Regions from separate parts of the Homo sapiens genome. Here region 2 is linked to region 1. The links come from fine-mapping of genetic effects on gene expression. Tissue or cell type: whole blood. Region 1 holds a variant in brackets; the other region holds the start of a gene. All regions are shown on one strand. Distances are between the middles of the regions.

Region 1 (8,353 bases):
TGGTACAAGTTGGGCTTGGGATAGAATGCCACTTTCCATGTTGATGGAGGGAAGGGACTTCACTCTTGAACTCTGTTGCCTGTGATCTTTGCAGCAAATTGCTATCACTGCTGGGTGTAAAACCACCACCTCAGCTGTGATGGTTCACTGCCTGCGACAGAAGACGGAAGAGGAGCTCTTGGAGACGACATTGAAAATGGTAGGTTGCCTGTTCCCGTAGCCCAAACACTGTAAACTTGGTCCCAGACTTCTTCATTTCAGCGGTCCTCTTGCCCTGGGACAGTTACCTGGGACAATTTCTCAAGTCTCGGGAGTCTCAGTATCTGAATGGGGAATCTAATTTGTCCTTTTTAATCGTAAAATGGCACAAATGTATAAAAAGAAAGTCAAAAAATAACATGATAAAGAATTGACCAAATTTACTATTTGATGAAAATTTAATATTTTGCCATTCTTGTTTTCAGATGTATTTTTGAGAAACTAAACATTACATATTCCCAGGGGACACCATCATGCTGAATTTGGGGGATGGAGATATTAAGCTCAAAGATTTTCAGAAAGATGTCACAATTTATCTTGGTTGACTTAGAAACTGTCTGTATTAGACCTGGTGGTGGTCCAGTTACATATATTTTCTGAGACTCTGACTCATTTATTGTTCTAGGATAGTCATTTGTCCACTCAATCATTAATCCATCTACTATGATCTTCTTATCCATCTGTATGTTCACTAATTCATCGCTTTCACTTATCTATTTTTATCAATCTAATATCAACCTGTTCGTAACTTTTTATGTATCTATTTTCAATCCATCCACCATTCATGGATCATCCAGCCACCTTATATCTCAACTCCATCACCCATTCCTCCAAAATCAACAATCCAGTTATCGCCTGTCTGCTAGTTTTCACCCATCTATTCATGTATCCATTCAATTCAACTGTACTCCATGTATTGACCAACTCCATCCATCCCTCCATTGATCCATCCATCCATCCATGCTAAATATGTAGGGGTGGGTGTTAGAGGTAGCAAAACAGACATGAAGTGGACATAGTCCCTGCTCTCAAGGAACTATCCAAAGAGAAATACATTCATATACTTCGCAGGTTGAGTATGGTGGCAGCACAGAGGGGAAGCATTCATTGTAGTAATCAGGGATGCTTCACAGAGAAGGCGGAGGAGCCAGATTTGAGACCAGACAGTGGAATTCAGGAGTTCATGCCCTTAACCCTGACTCCACCTTATCTTTCCTGAGAAATTCAGCTTTCAGATCATTGTGCCCATTTTAACAGAGGTAACAAAGACAGATAAATTTTGTAATTGCCCCATGTCACAGTTCTAATTAGTCAGAGGCAACACTGTGGGACACAGAGCCCACACCTGCGGGTCTAGAGTATCTTCTGCCTTCCCTGCTCCCTGCCATCCTCACATATTAGGACCTGGGGACCTTTAGGATTGATGGATGGCTGTGGCAGTCTCTCATCACAGGGAAGCCCAGCAGGACAAACACCCAGATGACACAGCACCCAGGGCCGTTGGGAACTATTCCCTTTGAGGGAGAAGAGTGTGAATTCCAAGCTCAGGAGTAGCCTGGACTCTCTCTTTGGACCTGAGGCTACTCCTGGGTCCCAGGGCCGGCCTCTACCACTGGACTCTGCTTGTGTTTCCATGGGTTGAGTCCAATGTGGTCTTGGGGCTTAGGTCTTGGTTCAGTCTCTAAGTGACCAAAGTGTTCAAGGAATTAAAACACACCTGTTTTCTAATGCCAGGAAGGAGGCAAATATTCCAGCAATTCTGCATGTGGCATCAGAGGACCCAGCTTAAAAGGGGAGAGTTGAGTCTTTGGGAAAACCTATCCCTAAGATCCTGGAACATCCTTTTGAGTTTTTCTGAGATCTTGTGGAAGTGCTTCCATGATTACGCATTGCCTCCAGTATGCACACATGCAGACACACAGACAAACACACATAGACACACACAGAGAAACACATACAGGCACACACACACACACACACAGACACACACAGACACCCACACACACAAAGAGACACACACACACACTCTTGGCTAGTGGGACTTCAATCCTTAATGGAGGGACATGCACTGGTTACGTCCGGAGCACAGGTCAGATCTTGGAACTACAATGCAACACTACAGTCACTGCAATCTTGGTGAACACACACCAAAGAGAAGCATGGGGTAGGGTGAGTCTCAGTGAGCTTGCATGAGTCAGGGCTTTCTGATAGGAGATGAGGAAACTCCCTTAAGTACCTTGAACAGAAAAAGAAATGTGTTGCAATAGCATCCTCATGTAAACTGAAAATCTCAGGAGTTGATGGCTTCAGGCATGGCTGGATCCAGATGATCATAGGATATTATTGAGAATCTACCATTCTCTATCCTTCAGCTTTGCACATTTCTGTGTTGGTTTCACTCTTAGGTAGATGTGTCTCCTCTGAAGGTTAAAGACAACAGCACTCTGGACTTATGTTCTATCTGCTTAAAAACCCTGTTTCTAAATAATTCCTGCAAAAGTTTTGGGGTAAACTATTGGATTGACATGGGTGTATGCCCATCCCTGAACTAATATTCATGTTCAGGGAGATGGAGCACCCCAGGTCACATATAGATATATGAATTCATGGAGTGATGGGAGAAGAAGGAGGTCTCTGAAGGAGAATTGGTGAGTTCTTCCCAGGTGAAGAGGAAGGGGAGAGGGATGGGGGGCCAGGCAGCCTCAACCAGCGGGGGTCCTCTCCAGAGCTCCATCGACCCTGGCTCAGAGTCCCCGGCCTGTCTTCCCCATGCTGATGCCCACCCCTCCCTGCTATGCCTTCACCCTGTGCTTAGGCCTAGCAGAGCCAGAGTCCTGCCCACTTCCTTTCAGCCCAGCCAGCTTGGCACCAGGAGGGAGAACCTGACACCCCTGTTGCCCCACTCACCCAGCTCAGTGTTCTCCTGGGAAGCCTCTCACCCACATCCTCTGCTTTTGTCTTCACAGAAATTCTTATCTCTGGACTTACAGGGAGACCTCAAAGAGGTAAGGACCTTTTGTTTCTGGATTACGGGTTTTGAGTCTTAGCACCTTTAAGTTCCAATGAACTGTGAGTGAAAGAATCCCCTCTCGGGTGGTTATAGTAACTCCTGTGTGTTTGTTGCCGAGGCCCAGAGAGGGGTAGTGACTCACCTGGGTAACACAACCAGGAAGACTAGTGGCTGGCCTGGAACCTATTTTCCTGACTCCCAGTCCAGTGCTCCCAGGCATCACCTCTGTGTGCCCTGGGCTCTGCCCACTCCCCTGCTTTTTTACATTTTCTACTCCCCAAAATGGCACTATGGAAGAAGGCTGAACCAGAATCTTCCACTCTCAGGAGGCAGAGATAATAGCGATGATTAGCCATGGAGGGAGGAAGCCTAAATCTCAGTCCAAGGACACTCGCCTCCTCCCAGCACACAGGAAACTCCAACAGTATCCTCCTGATCTCCTCACCCCCACCCCCACCTCCCAATGGGTTGACAGTTTCTGGTGACATCACCTCTGACGAATCTTACAATCCTGTCCTCTCTGCTGCCTCCCTGGAGGCCGCAGCACTCTCCTAAATGGTCATGGGCGGAGTACATGAGATTCATTCAGCAAAGATAATAAACACTTCCTATGTGCCAGGACTTGTTTAGGAGCTGGGGATATAACAGTGAAAAAAGAAAGACTCCCTGCCCTCTTGGGACCTTCCTTTACAGTGCAAGGACAGTGCAATAAAAAAGCAAATCAAGTATGTATTCCATTTGATGGTGTGCAGCATTAGGGGATAGAGTTTGTGGGTGGTTTCAATTTCAGTAGCAGGATCAGGGAATGGTTCAATGAGAAGGTGGCATTTGAGCCAAGCTCTGGAGGAGGCAGGAAGCCAGCTGTCAGGAAACCTGGAGAAGCCTATTCCAGGCAGAGGGAATAGTCACTGCAAAGACCCTGACAGAAGGGGCCAGTCTGGCTGGAGAGGACCGAGTGTGGGGACAGACTGGCTTGAGGCTAAAGAGGTAATTGGCAGTGGGAGAGAGATCAATTAAAGTACTTGGATTTGGATTCAGAGCAAGATGGGAAACCTTTGGAGGTTTTGAACAGAGGAGTCACATGTTCTTAGATCTCACAAAGGTCTCTGCCTCCGGTGTTCAAATAGACTGTAGGAAAGGGGCAGAGTGGATGCAGTTGACCAGCTGGGCAGCCACTGCATTGCC[G/A]TAATCCAGGCAAGGGCAAGGGCTCCTGGCTGCTTAGACAGGGCTGTGGCAGTGGGGATGGGAGGAGTAGTTGGAGTCTGGATATCTTTGAAGGAATAGCTGACAGGATTTGCTGATGGACAGGATGCAGCGGGTGAGAAAGAGAGAGGAGTGGAGGACGCCCTGAGTTTTCTGACACAAGCAAGGTTATGCCCACACAGGGCAGCCACTTGCAAACTCTGAGTGGACAACAGCAATCACTTGTCATTGTTGCTGATGGCAGTCTTCCTGCATTGCTGCTGCCCAACTGGGGCTCTCCTGTCTCTTGCCTCAACTTTTATCCTCTTCTACTTCACCTCCCCTCCCCATTTCCACGTCTCATGGTGCAGCCAGACTGTCCTTCCTTAACAGAGTTAGAGCACGTCACTCCCACTTCTTAAAAGCCTGACCTTCCTTATGAGACAAATCCCCTTCCCTCCATGGAGTTAGTCCTTCAAAACACACCTGCGTGCACACTGTGTGCCAGACTGTGCAGAAGGTAGGCTCTGCACCTGTCCCTCCCTCTAGACCCTGCCCCACAGCATTTCTCCAAGCCCAGAACTCTTGGTTGTTTCTGGAATTTACCCTGCACAGTGACACCTATGTCCTTTTGCTCATGCGGTTCCCACTGTTTAGAAATTCTCACTCCTTTCCTCACCTGTCAATACCATTCACTGCCCAGAGCCCACCGCAGGCGGGCGGCACCTCCTCCACGTAGTCTGCCCTGCATCTTCCTTCCAGAGGGGCTGCTCCTCTTTCCGGCCCCTCACGGCAGCCCTGCCTGAACTGCACAGCCTCTCAAGGCACCCAGACTTGCACCCCAATCCTGTTCTGTGCGTCAGCCATGTTGGATTAGGATCTGATCTTGTCCAGCTAGGTCTGGTCCACTTTTCAGAACATCTCCCCCAAGGCAGTCCGAACTAGCTTGTCATTCATTGGCTTTTGTAGGCAGACCAAAGGTCCCGGAAGCCATAGGGTCTCAAAGGCTAGGAATTTTCCAGTTCCATCTGATATCCAGGAGGGAAACACAGCCCATGGGGCGTGAAACTGGGAAGATGGCACAGAGGACTGGTGTCTATGAGAGGGACCCACAGCAACCTTGCTAACAAGTAATACCTAACAGTTATTCAGCCTTTCCAGACACCAGGTGCTGTGCTAAGTATTTTACATGTGTTCAGCTATTTAATCCTCACAATAACTCACCTCTTAGATGAGAAAACTGAGGCCCAAACAGGTGAAACTCCTAGCCAGTAAGTAGCAGAGCCAGGCTTCAGATGCAGTTAATCTGGTTTCAAAGTCCATGCTCTATCTTAGCAACTACACCATTGTGACTAAATATGAAATATAACTGTACCCAGAACCAGCTGCCCTGATGGCAACGCGTGAGTCAGACTCTCTCTAATCTGTGACCACATAAAAATTATTCATTAAAGGTAAAACCTAAAATTAAGACATGGATCAATATACTGTGAGTTAATCACTGATTCTTTTACTCATAATTTTCTCTCTAATAGGGAATCTCGTCCTAGTCTAGGCTCCTTGAGTGATGAGGGTTCAGTACTTCCTCAAAGCCACCCATGGATCAATAACAGCTCTTGTTTAAATACAGATAGATAGCATAATCTCTTCCTCATTAATCATGGATTTTGCGTTTATAAATTCACCTGCTTGCTAAAATGTCCTTATAAACCCCAAATCGATACTGGTGGCACTTTCATGGTCACACAGGCAGGCACAGAGCAGGGGAAGCTGGATTTGCATGATGGGCATGTTCCATCTGAGATCTGGTGAGGCAACCCCTGTCTTCTTGTTTCATCTCTGATGTTTACAAGTGTCCTCTTCGCAGTCTATTTAGTGCCGTGTGTTCTGCATTTTTGTGCTTTTTGTAGTGATGTCACTGTTTAGAGCGAACCCAAGAGTAGCGCTGCTGTCTGGCGTTCCTGAGCTAAACAGGCTGTGCTGTGCCTTACGGGGAAGGTGCCTGTGTGAGACAAGCTTGGATGAGGCAGGAGCTGCAGTGCTGCTGGCCGTGCATTTGGTGTTGAAAAATCCACATAATAGCACATTCAGAAAAAGGAGAAGGAAATTGGCTGATTCATACATGAGGCTGTGATAGAAAGGGCTAAAGTAACACCTATTGTGTGGGATGGAGCCGTGGAAGTCTCTTTCAACAGAAACCCACACATAAAAGAAGGTTGATGAAAATGTTGTGGCCAGAGGTTTGCAAAAACCTAACCCAGTATTTCCCCCTTGAGTGATGACCCTGTATTCTCTAATTCAGTACTCATGGGGGCTTTATCAGAAGCAACTGCCAGGACTACCGAAAATCAACTGTGGACACACAGAGGAAAATGCATGCACTTCAAATTGAAATATACAGACATGTAATTTTACATAGATAATACATGTATTTCAATATGAGTGAAGATTTCTTCCTCTCCTCATCATCTGACCAGTGTCAGCCTCTGCCTGAAGTTCTACCCCTGAGTCACAGAGGCCTACCCCCTTAAGTTAGGACCCTGAGTATGTGCAGCCGTGGCCCATGGCCATGCCGGTCTGTGGTACTGGTCTCACCCTCAGACAGGCAGAGTTGGGGACATGGGTGTGACTAGGGAGGGAATCACAGGCACTGCACTTCTCTCTCCCCCAGAGTCACCACTATTTGGCCACCGTGATTGATGGGGTGGTGCTGCTGAAAACACCTGAAGAGCTTCAAGCTGAAAGGAAGTTCCACACTGTCCCCTACATGGTCGGAATTAACAAGCAGGAGTTTGGCTGGATGCTTCCAATGGTGAGAAGGTGCAAGCCTCTTGGAGGGACTCACCCACCACCATCAGCCCTCCTGTCTCTAGTCCCAGAAGTGCTTCCCTCTCCGAGCCACACTCTGAGTCCTGGGCAGCTGTTCCCTTCAGCAGGAGTTACCATTTCCATGGAAATCTGCTCCAGGAGGGCACAGTTGTCACCGGGATATCAGTGCCCTGGGATCCCCTCTCCCCAGACTCTCTGATTATCTTCCTGTTGAAGAATCCTGAAGTGTCTGTGCTGGGAGGACCAGTAGAGAAAATAACTGTGCAGATGGGAAAACTGAGGGGGCCTGCATGGGGGAAGGAGTTGAGGAGTCTGGAGAGGCAGTCGGGGGCTTCCCGGCTTCCTGCCTCGGGCTGGGTGTGCGTAGTTCCCCTGAAAATCACTCATGCTCTTCATCACCTCATTGAAAATATCCAAAGAAAGTGGCTTCTTCTTGAGTTACCATTGACTTCTAGGGAACAGTAGACATCAGGGTCTACTAAGAGAGTGGAGGGTCAGAGGAAGATGAGGATGGAAAAGCTACCTAATCGGGTGCTATGCTCAATACCTGGTAACAAAATAATCTATACAGCAAACTCCAGAGACCCAAATTACCCATGATCAAACCTGCACAGTTACCCCCAAACCTAAAATAAAAGTTGGAAACAGATAAATGGAAAAAGTAATTGAGTTCTAGAAGTAAAGAAGCGTTCTCCTTCCAGTTGAAGATAAACAAAACTGACCCTTGTTAAAGCAGTAGGACAGGTTTATTCAGTAATATGATTGCAATAGGGGAAATATTCCGGCGTGGACTGGACTCACATCCCCAAAACAAAAGCCTGGTGATGTTTCATAAGCCAGGGGCGCCAAGGGAAACACACTGTGGTCTGTGGGGAGAGGCTTGGTCCATGTGACTAGACCACCTGGATCTCTTCATCCTGGCTCACCTGGGGCAGAAACAAACTCCTCTTATCTTTAGGACAGGAAGCCATGCGTTAGACTGCAGGAAGAATCCACTGAAGTCAGGCTCTATTCTTTCCACAGGGACTGGGAAGATCAAGAGTGAGCTCCTTGAATGTTTGCACTGCAAAGAGAAGGGTCTCACGTCCCCCAGGAAACAGGGTTGGGTGATAGATTCACATCCCAAACGACAGAGAAAGGGTTTATTATTGCAGGCTTTCTAAAGTAACTGCTCTATTTGGGTCCAGGGGACATCTGCTTTTCTCTAGGTTTTCGCTGGAGCAAGAGTAAATTATCCTGGCAGAGTTGAGCCTCCACAGGCAGGCATGTTAAGGATGCTGCGGTCATTCTAGG
Region 2 (8,000 bases), 51 kb after region 1:
CACTTGCCGAGTGGACACCTCAGTACACTTGCCACCCACACACCTCCTGGCCCACTCCTCTCCCCGACTATGTCAAAATTCAAGACAGCAGAATTCATGGGATCCTTCCTTCTGATCTCCCTCACCTGCTTAACTGCTTCTTTGTTTCCAAGGCACTTTTCCTGTTCTATCATATCACATAATCCACGGAGTAATTTGCATATTGTTCTTATCTGTCTCCCCCTGCTAGAATGCACGCTCCAGGAACCTAGGGATCTTTGCTTTTTCACTAATGGATCCCAAGAACCCAGAACACGCCTGGCACACAGCAGGTGCTCAATAAACATGTGTTAAATAATGGACTCCAGAATGCTGTGAGAGTTCTGGAATGTTCTTAAGGATCTACAAAGATCTTAAGGAGTCCAGAGCAAAGGATCAGCCCGTCAGGGGACTGCCTTGACTCCTTCCTGCATCACTTTGAGGTAAACATCCCCAAGGACACATGCCGCAGCTTACATAGGAGGGTACGAGGTGGCATTCTTCACAAAGCTCCATGGTTCTGCAGGCTGCGGTGGAGTAAACCTCAGGGGTCCAAGAGGCGGCTTGGCAAAAGGGATTCCCAGGAAAATGGCCACAGGCTGTGCAAATCCTTCTAAGCTGACGAACTTCCCCAGCACTTTGCCATGCACGGTGTCCACCACAGGTGGCGAGGACGGATGCCCTGCTGGACATGGAGAATAAATCAGGATGCATCAGAGGCAAAAGGCTGGACCCAGATTCCAGGTGGAGTTTGCCGCTTTCTAAGTGAGTGACCTTAAATAAGTCACCTAAACCCTCTAGGCCTCAGTTTCTCTTGATGTACAATAGGGATGACGATCAATGTCCTCCCTAACCCATTGAGCTGGTTTAATGGGCAAACTAGAATTGGAGGCATAAAAACATCCAGCTAAAAATAAATGCAAGAAGGAGAGCTACTAGGAAAGAACAAGACATTTAGCTTCCCCCTTAGAAGTCTCTGGAAACATTTATCCATTAGAATCCTGGCACTGAGCCGCATGCTGGATGAGAGGATGAAAAAGGGGTGTCCCATATTCTCACAAGCACTGACCATTATAGGGAAGGGTCACATATACACCTGGGGCTACAGCTGGGAAGGAAGTGGCCATGTCCTGGGAGAGGTACCCATAAGGCAGTCTAGGAATTAGAAGAGGGGGCAAGGCCTTCTGATTGCGGGCATCATGGAGGAGCTGGGACTTGCGGCAGGGGAGGACTGAATGAGGGGAGATGAGAAGCAGAGAGTGGTACACAGCAGAGAGAAGGGAATTTGCTGAGGCTCAGAGCAGCAGAATGCAGAGCCTGCCTGGGGAAGGGGGCATGGCCCACATGCACCAGGTGGAGTCTGGGGGGAGTGGAAAATATTCCTGGAATGAGACCGCACATGTCAGGGAGGGCTTAGAATGCCAGGCTAAGCGCTTGAGTTTTCTTTAATGGACAAATAAGCAGCAGGAACCGTTCCAGATAAAGGATGTGATCAGGTCAAGGAAGATTCTTCTGGTGGCCCTGGGCAGGTCTGCTCCATTCTTGCAGCACGGACAATGTTTCCTCACTGAGCTGAAATTCATTTCCCACAGCCTCCGCATCAGTTCTGGTTCTACCTGTCATGGGACTATACTGGCCTGATCTGATCTGCAGCCTGTGGCCTTTCAGACACTTGATCTTGCTGCCCACCCCTCAGGTCCTATCTGGCTCCAGTCACCTCAGTTTCTCTGAGCTTCCCTCCTAGGAAATGATTTCCAGCCTCTTGTCCTCCCAGCTGCTCTGCTTTGGATACAGACAAGACGTCAACACCTCCCTCAAAGTGTGGGGCTAGAGCAGAACAGAACAATTCAGATTTGGTCTTAAAGGGGAATATCCAATCACAATGGAAACCCATTATGGAAAGCCCAGTTACACAACAGCATCCATGTCTCATCTTATTAATAGCCAACCCTGCAATGTCAATATTTAGCTTCTTTTCTTTTGTTGTTGTTGCTAATTACAAATAATACTGAGATGAACTTCCTTGGAAGCATGTTTATCGACATAGCAATGGGTGGTGGCATTACATGTGGCCTGTTTTCTTGGTGATTTCCACCTTTTCAGCACTGTATGGGATTTCCGGTCTTCACCTGAAATCCTCCCCCCCATCTTAATTATTTTAAAATTTTAAATAAAAAAAGAAAAAATATGTAGAAATATGATGATGTCTAAAAGGTATTTTGAAAGACTTGGAGACCAGGCACAGTGGATCACCTGTAATCCCAGCACTTTGGGAGGCCAAGGCAGGCAGATCATTTGAGGTCAGGAGTTCAAGACCAGCCTGGCCAACATGGTGAAACCCCCTCTCTACTGAAAATAGAAAAATTAGCTGGGTGTGGTAGCATGTGCCTGTAATCCTGGCTCCTCCAGAGAGAGAGAAGAAGGAAAGAAGGAAAGGAAAGATGGAAGGATGGAAGGAAGGAAGGAAAGAAGGAAGGAAGGAAAGAAGGAAGGAAGGAAGGAAGGAAGGAAGGAAGGAAGGAAGGAAGGAAGGCAGGCAGGCAGGCAGGCAGGCAGGCAAGTGGGAGTGAGGGAGGGAGGGAAAGAAAAGAAAGGAAAAGAAAAGACTTGGTCCCTGACCAGAGGTGGGGGAAATGGAAGGGAAAGAAGACCAAAGAGCTGGCTTGTAATGCTGGATCCCTGTTTACACAGGCTCGGTGGAGATGTGAGTGGGATATCCAGGCAAGATGATGCCACAGGATGAGCGCACTTCAAAGCTGGAAGGAAGCCTGGTGAGGGAGCAGGGCAGAATCTTCTCCTGGACTGTGAGGGTACATACGGTGGATGTGTATGGCTTCATTGAAGATGCCAGTGTGAGAGGGAAGAGAAAAAAAAACAAAGGTCAAACACAGGGACCACTACGGCCAAGACCAAAGATCCATCAGAATAGGGGAGAGAGAACGTTCCCATGTCTTTGAAGCCCAGGGAGCAAGAGGGCGAGGAACCAGCTAAGAGTGCTGAGGACTTCAGGGAGGTGGAGGAGAGTCAAGTCAGAGAAGAAACCACTGGGCTGGTCATGCTCAGCTCAGGGATTCCCTTCAACAGGATGAGGTGGATGGCAGCCAGATTGCCAAGGGTGAAAAAGTGGGTGAATGGGGGGAGGCAGAAACAAGTGTGAGAACAAGACCAGTTGCTGCTGATGTTATATGAAGCACGAACATGGTGGGCACCTACTATGTGCCAGGCATGCATTCCAGTTTTTTAAATTAATCTTCAAATAAGCCTTGCTGGGTAGGCATCAACATGCCCATTTTACAGAGGAGGAAACTGAGGAAGTGGAGGCAGCCTGTATGGTCTTCCTAAGGAAGGAAATGGATGGCATTGCCAGGAGTAACCAGAGGTAAAGGAACATTCAGTTCCAAATAGGCTTCCTCTCTTCTCTGCCCTTCCCCACAGTTCCAGAGCTCTCGCAGTGTCAGGCTGCCAGAAGGAAGACAGGATGCAGACGGGGCTGGGCTGTCAGGATTCAGGACCCAGAGACAGACCTAGGCGTGATTTTCGGGTTGACCCTGGGCAAGTACATTTCCCTGTGTGAGTCTCAGTTTCTCTGTCTATAAAATGGCATGGGGGTATTTCGAGGCCCCTCGCTGCACCCCTCTATGTACCATGTGTTTTGCTTTCTGTATTCTGATGCTCTGGCATCTGAGGCCTTGTTGACCTTGGAGAAACTCCCTCCCAGGGTCCAGCCACCCCAGAGCCCACACCCCAACTGCCTCTTTGATCGGGTTGCCATGCCCTGGCCACTACCCACCTGCCCTAATCATGCCAGGGCTAGGTACAAAACAATTAGGAACAGCCCCTGTGCCCCAGAGCCCCTGAAGTATCCCAACTTGCCAGTCCTCAGCCTGCCTGCCCTGCCTTTCCTCTTCTATCCTTGGAAGCCACAGTAAAAGCCCCTTGGCCTCAGATCCGCCCTGTCCCCTCCCCAGGCTCTGCTGCTTCCCCTTGTGCCCCGCGCACTGGTGTCCCCCTCCTGTTGAGAACATGAGTAAGAAACTGTCTTTTTAATGGCAAGAGGTCCTGATATAGTGGCCTGACCACAGCTCAAATTTTCTATTCATACACTACGTTTTTAAACAGCGCCTTTATTTATCCATCCCTTTTTCGTGCTTTCTACATACCAGGCGCTGCCAAGAGTGCTTTAGAAACAGCCACCCATTTCCTCCTCACCAAAGCCCAGTGAGGTAGGCAGCACTGCCACCTCTGTTTCAGAGAGGGGGTAACCCAAGCACGGAATAGCGCAGTCCCTTGCCTAAGGACACACAGCGAGGAAGCGCCCAGCGGGGACTCGAACCCACGCACTCTGGCTCCAGAGTCGATGCTCTTAATATTATGTTGAGCCGCTCTCCGTGATCCAGCCGTAAGGGGACTAATTAAGGGACAGCAAACTGAGCTGCCTAAATTTCTCGTGTGTGCGGCCTGAGGTGGGCCGGCTGTCGGCCTGCATTTGGGCGAGCAGTACAGGGCGATCTCAGGATGTTCACCCTCCCTGCGTCTCCGCGCGGGCCAGGCTGGCCGGGCTCAGCTGCTCCAAGTCCAAGTCCTAATATGGAAGTCGTGCCCCGCCGCAGAGCCGGACCTGTTGTGTCTTTGCCTTTCTACGCATCTGCGCCCACCTCGGCCCAGAACAAGGATTTCAAAAAGTGCCCCGCATTTTGATTTCAGAAGGACTCACCCCAAGCCGCGGAAGCAGAGAGAGTGGCCAGGATAAAGGCACGGAGCCACATCGTGGAAGGGCGACAGTTCTCGGGGCCTGCGAGGTCTCTGTGCAGTTCAGAGGGACTGTGCTGTCCAGCCCTGGAGCCCAGCCCCGCCCAGAGTTACCGCCCTGCGCTGCCAATTGCCTAATCCTCTAATTGGGAGAGATCAGAAAAGCCCTCCCTTTCCTCAGATCTCCCTGGGCTTCTAGTGGGGCCTCAGGCCACGCCCACCCACAGTTTACCCTCTTTCATCAAACCAGTCTGGACTCTACTGTCAGATTACAGAGAGCTGTAAACTTGCCCAACTACTTGTTACATAAGGGTTCACCCTTGCAGGACTCTAACCTCAGTGCACTGTGACGGCCCCCAAGGGCCCACACCAGCAGGCAGATGCTTTTAGGCAAAGGGAAGCTTTGATCTGAGGTCCTCAGAAACAACTGGAAAATGTTAGAGCCACTCACACCTCACAGCTCAGCTGGGTAAGTTAGGACATATCTCAGCTCCCAGGGCTTGTGTTTTCATAGCTTTCCAGGCTCTCAAGCTTGGAAGCGATCTTAAATTTCATCGAGTCCCCTTTCTGAGGCCTGAATTAGCTTCACAATATCCTGCCAACTGGTCCAGCCTCCTGTCACACACCATCGGTGTCAGAGAACTCACTACTTTCCAAAGCAGGGATTTTTGGACAGAATGTAAAAATGAACTCCGTCCCCCCATAGTCCCTGGCTGTTATCATCCATCCATCCAAGTACCCATCCATTTTGTGAACATTTACCAAAATGCTTGGCACCTGGCCATGTATAATGGATACAAAGACCAATTCAAGACATGGTTCAGCTTCTCAAGGGGCTCACCATTGTAGACAAGACAGATGGGGTGGAGGAGCAGTAGGGGTGATGTCAAGGCAATGTGAAATCACCAAATTAAGGGGATACAGAGTGCTCTGGGCACACCTGGAAAACTGTCATTTACAAGCTGCTGGGGACACAAGGAAGTCACTCAAAGCCTCTTTCATGGGATTATTAAATGTCCAACAATAGGGAATTCACTAAACACACTGTGGTACCGCTGGCTAAGGAAATACGATGTATTCACTCAAAATAGTGATGTGCACAGCTATTTATTAACAATGAAGACAGGATGCGTTGTGAAAGGAGAAAATAATAGGTTATAAACTGTTGTGCGGTGTAGGCAGTTCCTCAAAAAGTTCAACACAGAGTTTCCATATGACCCAGCAATTCCCCTCCTAGGTGTCTACCGAAGAGAACTGAAAGCATGTCCACACAAAAGCTTGTACACAAAGAGCAGTGTCATTCATCCTAGTCAAAAAGTGGGCACAACCCGCATGTCCATGACCTGATGAATGTGTAAATGAAGTGTGGTGTATGCGTGCAGAGGCATATCATCCAGCCATAAGAAGAACATGCTACAACGTGGATGAAGCTGGAAAACATCATGGTAAAGGAAAGAAGCCAGCCACAAAAGGCCACATGTCGTATGATGCTTTTTATATGTAATTTCCAAAATAGTCAAATCCATGGAGACAGAAAGTGTTTGACAGGGTCTGGGGAAGGGGAAAGAGACGGGGATGAGGAGTGACTGCTAATGGGCATGAGTTTTATCTTGGGGGTGGTAAAAATGTCCTGGGATTAAATAGTGATGATGTTAGTGCAACTTTGGGAATATACTAAACACCACTAGATTGTACACTTTAAAAAGGTAAACTTTATGACATGTGACTTATATTTCAATAAAATAATGAAATATTTTTGAAAATCTAGATAGGTATAATATGGTCCCGTTTTGGTAGTAACATATGTCTTTATTTGCATAGGAAAATACTGGAAGTCTATATATCTAATTAGAATTACAACAGCCATTTCCTGGCTGTAATCTTGTCAGTGTTTCACTTATTTGCATTTTCCACTTTTATTCCTTCATACATTCATTGACAAATATTTACTGAGAGCTTACTGTGTGGCAAACACTATGCCGAGAGTTTTGTATGCAGGATCTCAGTTCTCAAAATAACCCCGTGAGATTAATGCTGTCTCACGATCTTAAATTGATTTCTGTTGTTTAAGCCACCCAGTCTGTGATATTTTCTTCTGGCAGCCTAAGTAGACTAATACATAGGCTCAACTCAATTCCGTTATTTATTCCCAAAAGAAACTAAGGCCCAGAGATGAGGAGGGATTGCCTAAGGTCACACAGCAACTCAATGGCAAAGTCAGAACCAGAACTTGAGGCTTCTGCCTTCCAGCACAGGGTGGCTGGCAGCCATTTCTCTTGCTTTTATACATCAGGAAGATATTCTAATCAGTAGCCTTATCTAAGGCAAATTGCCTTGTCAGCTCATTGACCCAGGCTTAGCATGGTAGGGCTGAAGGGATAGAAATAGCCAGGGGAGGCTGGGCACTGTGGCAACCCTTCCCGCTCGGTAATCCTAGCACTTTGGCAAGCCAAGGTGGGAAGATTGCTTGAGAGAGGAGTTCAAGACCAACCTGGGAAACATAGTAAGACCCTATCTCTACAAGAATAAGGAGAAAGGAAGAAGAAGAAAAAGAGGAAGGAGAAGAAGGAGAAGGAGGGAAGAAAGAAGAAGAGGAAGAAGAAGAAGAAAGACAGAGAGAGACAAAGAAAGAAAGAGAGAGGAAGGAAGGAAGGAAGGAAGGAAGGAAGGAAGGAAGGAAGGGACAAAGATGGGAGCCATGTACCAGGTACCTGGGGAGCTATGTTCTATTTTCCCAATGTCACTTGGCAAGCCTGCCCTTGTCCAGGCCACACCACTATTGACATCAGGAAAGATTGGGCAACCAGCAGCCATAAATCACATGACAGTCCCAGAGCTGCTGATGGATTCTTGCCCAAGGCCATGAGTTGTAGCTGAAATGAAACTTCTGGAGACCCAAATTCAAAAAGGCATGCTCATTAGCACTCATTCTAGCCACGTGCAGGCTGGTGAGGGGCATTCTGTGATGGGAATGAGGATGCTCTGACAGCATGAGAATCAGTCCCCAGAGCTAACTGACTCTACAAAGGTTGACCTGAGCTTTAGGGTTCCTCCCTTACTTTTATCCAGGACAGAAATCTGGCTGATAAACTGCATGCTAATAAAAAGCATCCCTATCTCTATCCACAAGGGACAAATTGGGAGGTCCTCCTAAATAGAAAGCAAGGCTAGTCCCACTCACTCAGCACAACACACACACACACACACACACATGTGCACGCATGCGCGTGCCT

Evidence for each region. PIP is the estimated chance that this variant, and not a neighbour inherited with it, causes the effect.
Region 2: CES1 starts here. The variant in region 1 is fine-mapped to the expression of CES1 in whole blood (GTEx, PIP above 0.99).

What each region holds. Positions count from the first base shown.
Region 1 is chr16:55,776,697-55,785,049 of GRCh38, forward strand. No RefSeq gene overlaps it. Among named protein-coding and RNA genes, the nearest start is that of CES1, 52 kb to the right of the region's middle. RefSeq lists an enhancer at 2,447-3,646. The variant G/A (reference allele first, on the strand shown) is at 4,235.
Region 2 is chr16:55,828,272-55,836,271 of GRCh38, forward strand. CES1 (carboxylesterase 1) reads right to left here and starts at 4,825. Exons shown (of 14, transcript NM_001025195.2): 1 at 4,733-4,825; 2 at 496-703. The coding sequence starts at 4,784.